Linked DNA regions of Homo sapiens. The protein of the gene in region 2 interacts with the protein of the main gene of each other region in a pairwise test. Each region holds a gene or a part of one and is shown on either strand. Other genes may lie near its edges.

What was found.
Region 1: the proteins of MXI1 (region 2) and ENTPD5 interact in binary tests that used the Homo sapiens proteins (3 or more experiments, as listed by UniProt).

Annotation. Positions count from the first base shown.
Region 1 is NC_000014.9:73,962,730-73,967,288, forward strand, and holds the end of ENTPD5 (nucleoside diphosphate phosphatase ENTPD5 isoform 1 precursor), read right to left. Parts: intron 4,286-4,559; coding exon 4,199-4,285; 3' UTR 501-4,198; downstream 1-500. Other genes in the region: COQ6 (ubiquinone biosynthesis monooxygenase COQ6, mitochondrial), read left to right, coding at 241-270. UniProt on the Homo sapiens protein: Hydrolyzes nucleoside diphosphates with a preference for GDP, IDP and UDP compared to ADP and CDP. In the lumen of the endoplasmic reticulum, hydrolyzes UDP that acts as an end-product feedback inhibitor of the UDP-Glc:glycoprotein glucosyltransferases.
Region 2 is NC_000010.11:110,279,878-110,288,437, reverse strand, and holds the end of MXI1 (max-interacting protein 1), read right to left. Parts: intron 8,525-8,560; coding exon 8,353-8,524; intron 3,615-8,352; coding exon 3,451-3,614; 3' UTR 1,073-3,450; downstream 1-1,072. UniProt on the Homo sapiens protein: Transcriptional repressor. MXI1 binds with MAX to form a sequence-specific DNA-binding protein complex which recognizes the core sequence 5'-CAC[GA]TG-3'. MXI1 thus antagonizes MYC transcriptional activity by competing for MAX.

The sequences.
Region 1 (4,559 bases), on a different chromosome or scaffold from region 2:
TTGCTTGAGCCTAGGAGTTTGAGGCTGCAGTGAGCTATGATCACACCACTGCACTCCAGCCCAGTCAACAGAGTGAGACCCTGTCTCTAAAACGTGTGTATATGTATGTATATTTTTCTTTTTTTAGCTGAAATAAAACAAGGACACTTGGGAAGAATACCTACGTGATTATTATCTACAATAATTATTTTCTTCACCTTACTGTGTTAAGAGTTTCATTCACTTTTATTTTTTCTCCAGGAACAGATTATGGCCTTTGCAAGCAAATGAGTACTCCTCTCCTAAAGAAAGATTACGTTGATGAAAAAGAACATCCTGCCCAGGACCCATCATACATATTTTCAAGATCTTATTTAATTTAATAAACTTACTTTACATTAAAATTCTCTTTTTCTTCTTTGCTTAATGGGCCTGTGGCACCCAAATAATGAATGATAATTTGCTGTGAGGAGCGTATATTAGCCAGACCAAAGGAAAAAACTTCGAAGGAAGACTTACAATTTGGTTGAAAAGAGCTTTTTATTACTAAAAAACCCACAAGGTGCTGTCTCACTCATTTCCAGTTAATCATTTCTAAAGAGAAAATTTACATTTTGTTTTTGTTTTAATGTTGGTCATAAATTTATACAGTTGTTTTTTGATAGAGGTAAGAATTAGACTCGATGCATTTTTGTTAGAATTGCTGTTTAAATGTTAACATCAGAATGCAAATTAAATATAAATTGCTTTAACCTTTGTTACAGGTATACTGGACTTTCTGAAAGGAAAACCAGGTCTCATTAATGCTAGTTATTACTTTATCACAGCACCAGATTTCCATTTTATTTATGGTTCCTCTCTGGGACACCACTGTCGGTTTAATAAAACAATAAATAATTCATTGCACAGATCCGAAGACCTCAGGAACCAGATCACAAGGGAAACCGATTAGCAGCAGAATTTGTTCATGTTTGGTGGCAGACTGGTGGCCAACTGGAGGGAGGGGAGTTTTACTGTGGGTTTTTGAAGAGGTCTCGTCACAAGACCAGAGATGCCTCTTGAAGAGATTTTTAGGTTGTAGGTTTGCTTACTCTAAAGAACATCTTGCCCAGAAGTCTGATTTGAGATGAAATGAAGAGAAACAGTCTGCTTTTGAACCAAGTAAGGTATTCTTGGGAATAATTTTTAGAGCCATGAGAAATCTATTCTTACAGGGGTGCTTTTCAGGCAAATGCAGAAAATTTAAAAGAGTCTAGAACAAAAAAGTGACAATGTCACAACCTTGCTGGAATCTCAGGAAAAAGAATTAAAGATGGCAGCTGCTGTGAAAAGCTGTGTGACTCCTGGCGGAGACTGCAGGGACAAGGTCATCTTTCACAAAAAATGGAAAGGTGGCCTAGATGAGGAGGACACAGACTCTCCAGAAGTTATGCAAACAAAATCAGGCAAGATGAAGAATTTTAAGGCACACCTCCATTGGCCCACAGAGAGTGTTCTTCATATGACAATGATGTTAAACACCATCTGTCACGTACCAGGCCATGTCCTAAGTATTTTAAATATGTTAACACATCTACAAAGAGGAAACTATTAGAATCTGTAGGACCTCTTAAGCCCAAAGGGTCTACTGCAGGCAGGATGGGCGTTACAGAAAAAAATAAAAACTCTCATTCCAAATTGCTCCTAAGATGGACAAATTGGTTACTTCTCCAGAAGGTCTAATCAAGGTTAACAAAATAGGTAAGTTCGTGGAGTTAGAATGCATCTTCCCTGGAGTTCAGAGGTATTTGGGATGACCAAAGGAGTCTGCTGGACAGTATGTGTGTTTTACAAAATGGCCCCCACAGTGATTAAAGACCAGAGACTTATATCTCTGCATTTGTCAAGCTGGAACAGTCTTTAGTGAACACAGCTTACCTCTTTTAAAACTGCTGGTTTCTACTGAAGGAAACATGGATGACATTTAGTGTTCTGTGACTGGTCTGGCACCCTACTTTTGTTGACAAAGATGGGAAGGGGTCTAAAAGTCATGTCACTTATAAAAGAACTTGGGAGGAACTTTTTTCAAAAGATCCAAAGATTTTGGAAGGAGAGATTAGAGCAGAACTAAGACCACTTAGAAGATAGGTAGATTTCAGCTCAATATAAGGAATTTTTTTTAATATCAGTGCAGTTCCAAATGGAATAAGCTGTTTGAACATGGCTTAGCAGAAGCTGAATGACAACCTGTTAGAAATTCTAGGGAATTCTGCACTGAGTACAACATTGGATTATTTCTTTGGGCTGTTTCCAACTCAAGATTCTGTTATTTCATTATAAGCATTTTGAGGAAGGCAGTTGGTATAAAGGTGACCTTAGTAATAAAAGTCAGTGTGAAGTCTAAAGAAATTCCACAATGAATTTAAAGACAAGAATTTTAGGGACAAGGATACAGAAATTTGCCTAGTAACTTGCACACAGCAGATGGTAAATATTTATTGACTCAATGGAGTAATGTTAAAAATAAGGTTTCCCATGGACTGTGTGAGGGCCAGGCATACTTAACATCCTTTGTGAGAGAGAGGATGGAAACGGAGTCTACTGTGAAAGCCACAAGTTTTGGGGAAATACACTCCTGCAAAGAAGCTGGAGGTTAACAACCAAGGCAAAGGGGCCAGACCACAGGGAGATCTTCCAGGTCCAAGAGCACTGCAGGGCAGATGAGAAGCAGGGATGATTATGTTGAAAGTGCAAGATAAGGCCAGGCGCGGTGTCTCATGCCTGTAATCCCAGCACTTTGGGAAGCGGGTGGATCAATTGAGATCAGGAGTTGGAAACCAGCCTGGCCAACATGGTGAAACCCCATCTCTACTACAAATACAAAAATTAGCCAGGAATGGTGGTGGGCACCTGTAATCCCAGCTCTTCAGGAGGCTGAGAACAAGAATCGCTTGAACCTGGGGGCGGAGGTTGCAGTGAGCTGAGATTGCGCCACTCCACTCTAGCCTGAGCAACAGAGCAAGACTCCATCTCAAAAAAAAGTGCAAGATAATGAATTTGGGGTAAATAATTCACAGTCAAGAGCTCTGAGCACTTGGATTCAAAAAGAGAGCATGAGGGACATTAAATATGGTTCTCCCTGGAAATGTTGGTCCACTGTACTGATGTGGGCTGAGAGAGCCAACCAAATCCAAGTGGGGTTTTGTCAGGAACGGTATTGGAAACTCTGAACTAGATAAATAATTCAAAGGATATTAGCTAAAGTGATCAGGGACCAGGACAGGAAGGTACTGTTACAAACGGAGAGAATAAAAGGGCAAACTGAAATAATAGATCCTGGAATAGCACAGACACTGACCTCTGACCACAGACCAAAAGTTAGGGCCTAGTTGTATTTCTTAGAAATACAAAGAAAACAAGTTTAGAATCATAGAAAACACTGTTAACACATTAGCCTGGGAGGTGGTACTGGCACTGAATATACACATACCCATAAAGTCGGATATGTTCATTAATCCCAGAGTTGACTGATAAAATGCTGATTAAAGCAAAGGTAGGCTATATGAGGCAGCCACACCCTCCCAAAACATGTCCCCAGAGACCGGGTGGCCTTCTTTCTTAAGGCTGTAATTTATGCACAGTTAGGAGTTACTCTCTCATCCTATTAATATTTAGGATGGCTCTCAGCTGGCTGATTGGAGCTAACACAGAATAGGATCATACAGATTCTGACATGGTCCCATTTTGCGTTGTTGAATTATACATGGAAAGCAAAACCAGGTTTTTTTTTTTCTCTCTTTTTCAGGGGAGGTGGGTGCAGATAAGGGTGGGCAGGGCACTGTATAGGGAGGAAAAAAATACTGATATTGATGGGTCTTGGGATTGCAATAAGTCAGTTTACCATTTAAGAGGAAAATTTAAATATTCAGTGGAATGAGGCACTCAAAGGGTTGAAATGCGATTTTTCTTTGGTTTCCAGGGACCTGTCCCTGGGCTCTCACTCCAAGGTTAAGTTCCAAAACTATACTTTTTGGCTCACAGGGCTCTCTGTGATGCTCTGGTGCCAGCTGTGTACTCTTGAGTGGTTAGGCAGCAGTTCACATTAGATGTGTAAAATTAATTAAACCTAAATCTCTAGGCTCAAGTCCAGGATGTCCCCAGACTAGTTCAGAAACTAAGTGCTCTCTCCTCCCCTTAAAAAGGTGTTGGCAAATGCAGGTCTCCAAGGAAGTACGTGGCCTCAATGGGAGATGCCCAGAGACTGCAACAGGTGAAAGGTGGCCCCCAAGGCCCAGCCCGTCTCTATGTTGTTCACTTTCTTTGTGAGCTGTTGAGAAGAAAAAAAGTCTTCACCTTTTCATCCAGTTTCCAACTCTAGCAAGCACAGCTCTTGGGCAGAAAATATTGGCAAAGAATATCCACATGGGCAAACCAAGGCAAAACGGACAGAAGCCAGTCTTTGCAGGCTTCCCACTACTCTGTAACAATTTCCTTCCGGCCATGGCCCATTGGCCATTGCCCCTACACCCACCATTCTCATATCTGAACTGAATGCTTCTGGCCCAGGTTGTGGCCCATCAGGCCTTCTAGAGAGATAGTTT
Region 2 (8,560 bases):
AAGATAGAGGTAGTACTTATAATAGCTTTTCAGGAAGAAAAGGGCTCCATGAAGAAATCAAGCAACTTAACTAGGGTCAGCAATGTTGGAACTGGGATTACAGTGTAATTAAAACACTTGCTTTTCCCACACTTTACTGTTCTGGGTTAACTGTTGGGAACCTGATTTTGGTCAGCAACTTTGCCTCAATAATCCTCACTGCCTCTTAAAATTCCTTCATAATGCTAAAAGCAGTCATTGTCAGGGAGATTAGAAAGGCATTTCTGTAGGAGTTCTCATACCTATTCTAACCAGAAACTTGAGTTGCAGTGACTTCAGAATCCTCTAGTCATAACGCGCTACAGTAGGTTTTACCTGTACCTTTTTGAGACGGAGTCTCGCTCTGCTGCCCAGGCTGGAGTGCAGTGGCTCGATCTCAGCTCACTGCAGCCTCCGCCTCCCAGGTTCAAGATTCTCCTGCCTCAGCCTCCTGAGTAGCTGGGACTACAGGTGCATGCCACCACGCCCAGCTAATTTTTCGTATTTTTTTTTTTAGTGGATAACGGAATTTCATCATGTTGGCCAGGGTGGTTTCAAACTCCTGACCTCAAGTGATCTGCGCACCTCTGCCTTCCAAAGTGCTGGGATTACAGGTGTGAGCCATTGCACCTGGCCTACCTGTACCTTTTAATATAAATGTCACTCAGGTGTTCTATAAATAGGGTACCCTAAATAAGATTAGTGGAACTTCCAGACTTGTTTGCAATTTGAATAATAGTGTAGCTAAAGGATGCTCCCAAAAGTTATTTAGAGAACAGATCATGAGAATGGCTTTGTGTCCTACCTGAGGCAGTTAATATTATTATTAATGTGGCACATTAAACCACATGCAGTTAGGTTATATGGAGTTACCAGTCAGGCTCCTGTTTAAATTGCAGAACAGGAATGGCAATTATAATTCAAACTGCCATTTGATTTGGCATTGATACTGATTTGGTATCAACAGACATTTAGGAGATAGTTACCTCTTAAGGTGTGGATACCCATTCATGTTTTTGCCTTCATAAAGAAGGATGGTACAAAAAGAAAGGTATTCTTCGTTCACAGTTTTTATTTCTTCCAATTAACTTTTGTGTCTTCAAAGTTGATTTGTCTTTTAAAAAATTAATACTTCTTACTCATACAATCTACACCACCCCAAGGAAAACAAACCCAGGGAAGGGTAATTTAGGGGGCAGTTAAAATGTGCACTATAGGTTTATAACAAATGCTTTCCAGCCCATAATCCTGTACATATGCAACAAAATGGCACCTCAAGTTCATCTGAATGAAGGCCCAAATAATGCAAGCGAAGGCCATGAGAATAACAAAACAAACAGAAGCTTAGTCACTGGCTTCATTCACTTTGTATGGTAGCACAGTCTTCAAACTGTCTCACACTTGATCAAGAGTAAGCAAACACAGAGACAACATCTTGACTCAGCCATTAGTAATTATAAGTGAAACCAGAAATAATTTACCTGGGCCACAAAAAGGAATTGTTTTGTCCTGTTTTTCATTAAGTCCCTAGCACCTGAAACGTAGCAAGTTCTGATACTGGGCTTCTAAAGGCATGCAGTTTTTCACTCACATCTACTTCAAAGAATTTCTTCCACTGAAACATAGCACAATCAAGGAAAAACTTCTTCTGGAGGCAAAGGAAGAGCACAAGTATATGTTGAGGCGTAATGTATGACCAAGATGGTACACTATATATAGAAGCAGTGAATGCTGTTAAAGTGTCACTCACAAAGGGATAGTCTAACATTAACACACAACTCAACTGCACTGCTAAATATGGTTGTCTTTATTTTCTTTTTCCTTGCCCAGCCCTATCTAAACATAAAATAAAACTACAGGACTGAAATTAACAATCCATTAAAATCAGCAATAAGTTATGAAAATCATAAAGCTTTTTTTTTTTTTTAAGTAATTAAGGGTAGTTAAATTATTTAAAGTATACAAAGTCCAAACAGCCAGGGGTAAGGTCTCCAAGAGGCCTTCCCAGGGTAAGGGAGAGGGCCACAAGGGAACCTTGGAGTTTGAAAGACAAAGGGAACACATGACATCAAAGTGCAGGCTAGAAATTTCACTTAGAAGAAAATAACATTACTGAAAATATTCGTAAGAGTAACAATAGCACCTGCACAGTGGGACTGTGAGGAAGAGAGAGACTGCCTGTAGGAAAATGGAAGCAAATCTTTACATTAAAATGAGACAAGTGCTGAACTTACTATGTTAACTATGATAGTGTGTCTACTATAGATATCAGATGGTTAAAAGCTGGTAAAAGGTAATGATTCTAAAAACAAAAATAGCATTGACCCTTTTTCTACCTAGCCCAGACCTCATTCATTTTGTGCACTATAAAGAGTGAGGTGTGAGGTGTTTTATCATTATCAAATGCTGCATCAAAATAGATGATTTTTTTCCCCATGTGTTTTTCCACTATAAAAGACATCTATTTTTTTTTATGGATAAGCTTTAAAAAGATGTCATTTTGGTTTTCAACACATATAAACAGTTATCAAAATCTGAAATAAAAATGCTGCTGTGGCTCAGACCTTGGCCTGCTAATCTGCGTGCACAACTCTTCTGACCCACGCAGACAAAGAGGCACATGGAGCTTTTTCCTTTTGGCCCCCCCAATCCATACTCATAGGCCTTGTAGGATAGAGGCTGTCATGCATGGACTGCTCCCATGTGGCCTAAGGGCAGCAGGATGGAGAGGTGGCAGCTGGGTGCCTAGTGCTAACAATGCAGGATAAGGTTAGCTTGCTTAGCATGGAATCCAACAGAAAGTTGAGCTGCATGATGATCCCTTTCAAAAGGCTTCATGGGAGTCTCTCCTTTTGCAGAGCATGAAATGAGCTTTTTTCAAAAAAAAAAAATAATAATAAAGGATTGATCATCCACAGGCTTCATGATAAACTGTCCCAGGCTGAGTTTTAATAGCTCATTATTAGCTATCCAAGATTAATACCTGATTTTCTTGTCTTTTCATTCGAATAGTTTTTATTTTGCTTTTAGGACCATAAAGCTCAGGAAGGGTTCATAACCCCATCCTTAAATGTGTCTACTCAATGTAGTATGAGCAAACTAGAAAAGAGAAAGAGGATGGCATCTCCAATGTCCTCTTCTCAATCAACTCAAATCAAGAAAATTTCACACAAGTTTTCTGCTGCCATTAAAAATTGTGATTTTTCCAATATGAATATTCTGAATATTTGTTCTCCTTGGGAGGCTCTGCCCCACTTTTTGCTAAGTATTTGCTTAAATACAGGTCCTCTGACCCTTTTGTTCAAGTATAGTTTTGTTTTGTTTTGTTTTGTTTTAAAGAGGAGACTGCATCATGAACCCAATTTAAGAGATTGTTTGTATTGAATTGGCCCAGTGAATATTTTGCCCTGCACTGTTATGTCATGCTGGGTTCTATGAAGTGAATGAAAGTTTGACACTGGCACTGGAGTAACCCTCGTCACTCCCAATACTCGGCAGGCTGCTGTGGTCATCAATGTCACTGATGCTGGTGGTACTTATATTGTCCACTTCTCCATGGGAGAACTCTGTGCTTTCAACATCCACTTCAATCTCCTCTGCCAAAGGAAAAAAAAAAAAGAAGAACATTAATTATCGAGTATAGCGCACCTTCAAAAACTAACAGCATGAGGAAAAGAGGTATAAGAAATGTTACACAACAAGCTTATTATCAGTGATGTCTGGAGAACAGAGGAACAAGGTGAAGAGACAGGAATATTTTTTGCCAAGGGGAATGTCTGATATACAGTGGTGGTCTTAATTTAGGCAGCAAATTTCCTAAATCCTTTGACGCCAGTCCGTCTGGACCTCCCTAAAGCACTTGGCGTATTTGGGAATTAGTGCTTAATATTAAAAGGTCCCAACCCCCAAGTGGTTTAAAAACATCTGTTTTGCATTAAACCACAAACTAATTCTCAGTTCTGTTTATTAATCAGGGTTGCCTTAAAGGGTGGGCAGGAGCATAAACTTAATATAGGCAAACTAGAAAATTTACCCATCCAAGCCTTTGGTGGTGCCATTCTACAGATAGTTCAACAGACTTCTAGGATTCATCATAAAGATCTTCAACTAGTCAGTCAAACAAGTCATTATAAAGTAGAGTTTGAGGTATATGTCTTAGATTTAATTTTCTTGCATCAAATATAGCTTGAAATAAGGGCCTGAGACTTAAAAGTCTTCAGATTATAGTGAGATCCATTTTGGTGGTAGTATACAGACTTAAAAGCCAAACATTAAAAAAAAAAAACACCACAAATACATATTTGACTCAGCTATCAATAGATAATGTTGCTGGACGCAGTGGCTCACGTCCGTAATCCCAGCACTTTGGGAGGCTAAGGCAGGAAGATCACTTGAGTGCAGGAGTTTGAGACAAGCCTGGGTAACAAAGTGAGACCTCATTTCTACCAAAAAAAACACAACAACACAAAAATTAGCTGGGTATAGTGGGTGATCCAGTAGTCCCAGCTACTCGGGAGGCCAAGGTGGGAGGATCACTCTTGAGCCCAGGAGGTTGAGGCTGCAGTGTGCCAAGGTCTCACCACTGCACTTCAGCCTGTGTGACAGAGTGAGACCCTGTCTCTTAAAAATAAAAAAAAAAATCTTAATTGTTAAATACTAGATATTCAATCATCAATAATATACATAAATCAATACACATGTTAAAAACAAAAAGGAGTTAAAAAGTTGTTTTCTCCCATCAGAGCTAGAGTGAAACCCAGGATTTTTCAGTTACCTTACTTAAATTCAAAGCCTGATGTTTCACATTTGGCACTGACTTTTTAAGGGTTCACACTAATCACAACTGCTTTAAAAAAAAAAAAAAAGTGGATTCAGCCGGGTGCGGCCAAGCACTTTGGGAGGCTGAGGCAGGTGGATCACGAGGTCAGGAGTTCAAGACCAGCCTGACCAATATGGTGAAACCCCGTGTCTAGGCTAAAAATAGAAAAATTAGCTGGGCATGGTGGCACGCGCCTATAGTCCCAGCTACTTGGGAGGCTGACGCAGCAGAAACACTTGAACTTAGGAGGCAGAGGTTGCAGTGAGCCAAGATCACGCCACTGCACTCCAGCCTAGGCGACAGAGCGAGACACTCTCTCTCAAAAAAAAAAAAAAAGTGGATTCTTGTGAGGCCAAAAGGACAGGGTGAAGCTATTTCCAGGAATATACTTTTCAAAAGGGCTTGTTGCTTCAAAAGTTTTAGAGATTCTAGAGATGTTTTTAAAATGTAGGCAGCTGTCCAAATAATCTGTGAATTCATATATTGGCTCTATATCCGAATTGCTTCAGAAGCCATTGTTTCCCAGCACCACTGAACACTCATCCAACCTACAACTAGAAGATAATAACAAGGCACACTATCCAAAAGAGCATGCTGAACTCAGTCAAAATAAAGTAAAATGATGGCCAACACAGTGGCTCACACCTATAATCCCAGCACTTTGGGAAGCCAAGGCAGGAGGATTGCTTGAGCCCAGGAGTTTGAGACCACTTGGGCAACAAGGCCCATCTCTATTTTAATAAAATTTAAAAATATGTTTAAAAAAATTTTTTAAAAACCCAAAAAAACAAAGTAAAATGAGAAACTGCTTTAGCCAAGTGTACCACAGATGTTAACTAAAAGCCCCCATAACACTACAAAAAGGAGGTTGCCAGCTCAGGATAAGGATGGTACTTGGTAAGGTACCGCTAAAGTAAGGTACACTGGGAACACTAAAAAAAAATGAGAGCTATAGTGATGAAAATACACCCTCCTCTCTGAAATTTGGAGGTAGTTGGGGTGGGTACAAGGAGGAGGTAACAGGAAGGACAGCTAAAACCTAAAGACCTAAGAAGAGGTTTCCGCTAGTTAGCAATAGAGGAAAGACTGGGACACCAAGGTCAGGGTTATTTCTGCTATATTTCACTGTTACTGATAAATGTAGCATGTACTTCAGGTTCTTGCTACTGCCTCTGGTAGACTTTTCTTGAAAACTGCCACACAAAAATAAACTTTTACATAGAAAAATAACAAAACAGAAAAACAAGAACTCCTAGGGTTGTGTTAAAAAGGTTGCGTTAAAAAGGATGAAAAAACTATTTAAAAGGCTCCTACTCAGCAAATCTGGGACAGTTTGAGCATTCAAAAGAATTTAAAAGGATGACTGCAATGGATTGGAACACATTCAGTACAGCAAAACATGAGTTCATGATATAATCAAAAAATAGTAAAACCAAAACTTGTTACTTCTGGAAGCTGCTAGGTTACCAACTCTGTTTGGAAAACTGATAAAGCAAAAACCAAGACCAAGCATTTATCCCACCTTCCCTGTATGAACTTTATTTCAGGATAACCGAAAAGTTGATGAGAAAATGTTTATAGGAGAAAAACAGTTTATAAATACAAGAGGAATGACACAATTAGAAAATCACTATTTTATGACACCCAATGAAATAAGGGCAATAATTGCTAAAACTGTTAAGTTAAAGGCTATACATTTATATAAATGTATTAAAATGACCTTACCTGAACCTATTGATTAATATTAAAAGTGCAACAACAACTACACACAATACTGACATAACAGGAAGTACAAAGCACCACCTATGAAGTATTCTGCATCTACCAACCAGTTTACAGTCAATATAAAGGACATAACATGTTAAATGACACCATGAGGATTCAACCAGCCAAATCTAGGATGTAGGAAATTCTATAAGAAAAATGACTCAGTCTCTTGATGTTTAAAAAAATATGTACATATATACAACACACAGATCTATACCTATATATTCCTTCATGTTTTCTCTGCCAAAGAAGTCTTTTTGAGATGTTATGTAGAAATCAGTTTTTGTTTCTACCAAAACGGTGTAGGGGGAAGAGAAAAAATTATTATAGATTAATATCTTAAAAGGCACATCAAACAAATGCAATGTGGCCTTTGGATCCTGATTTAAACATACCAATGGTAAAATGCCATTTTTGAGACAACTGGAGAAAATGTATCACAGACTGGGTATTAGATGATATTAAAAAAGATTATCTGAATTAATTTTGTGGGGTATTATAATAGCATTATAATTACATTTTTAAAAATCCTATTTATTCAAGATACATACTAAAGTATTTAGGGGCAAAATGATGTTATCTGGGATTTGAGTTAAAGCATTCCAGAAAAAATATTGAGGGTGAGCGTAGTGAAGAACAGATGAAACAAGTTGACAGCTATTCAAACTGAATGGTGGGTATACAGGAGTTCATTATTCTATTCTAAGTATGTTTGAAAATTTCCACTTAAAAAAGTCAAAAACAAAAAACAAAATCAGAGTCCTAAAAACAAACAAACAAAAAAACTCTGTCACTTGTCTCATGTTTTAGAATCCTAAAGAGCTCATGAGCTCCTTTCTCCAAATGTAAGACTTCAAATCACCAGTGTTCACCTCTGGGATCTTTTAATGTGATATGAAGCCTGATGTGGTGGAAGCTTTGGGAAGAACAATCAGTAAAATTCAAACCATTCTTTTTTGGTTGACTTCTGTTCTTTAACTCTGTCAAAGATAAATATTCTAGGATAGATGGAAAGAGAAATAAAGGGTGTTGTACTTTAAAATCTACATATAAAAATTCACATCACCAGTAGTAAAAACTTCGACATCGTGTATCTTCCTGACACAATGGATTGAGAAAGGCACAACATCATTTCTTTTCTTTTTTTTTTTTTTGAGACGGAACCTCACTCTGTTGCCCAGGCTGGAGCGCAGTGGCATGATCTCGGCTCACTGCAAGCTCCGCCTCCCGGGTTCACGCCATTCTCCTGCCTCAGCCTCCCGAGTAGCTAGGACTACAGGCGCCTGCCACCACGCCCGTCTAATTTTTTGTATTTTTAGTAGAGACAGGATTTTACCATGTTAGCCAGGATGGCCTCGATCTCCTGACCTTGTGATCTGCCCGCCTTGGCCTCCCAGAGTGCTGGGATTACAGGCATGAGCCACCGGGCACAACATCATTTCTGTGATATTCCTTACCCCAACTGTATACCCTCAATCTAATCATTTGAAAACATCAGACAAACCTAAATTGAGGGACATTATATAATTTATAATATAAATATATAAATATATTTTTTTTCAAGGAAAAAACAAAAAGTTTTATAGTCCACACTGGCACTGCTGTAGACAATATTATGATTGCATAAAACCTACAATGTTACTCTGTTGGCTAGAAAGAAAGCAAATACAGTGCCTCCCAACATACCTTCCCTAAATCCAGATACAGAGATGTTTAGTATTTCATTAGAGAAGAGGCAAGCTGCCTACCTCGCTCTGAATCAGAACGATCTGAAGAAATAGTTGATCCAATGCTGTCCATTCGTATTCGTTCCATCTCCTGAGGACCCTGCAGCTGTTCCAGTCGCCACTTTAAAAATCTCTGTTCTCGTTCCAAATTCTCGAGCTGGTGCTGGCTTTTTCTTTCAGCTTCTTCAAGTTTCTGAAATGATGAAATGATTTTTACATTTGTGTATAG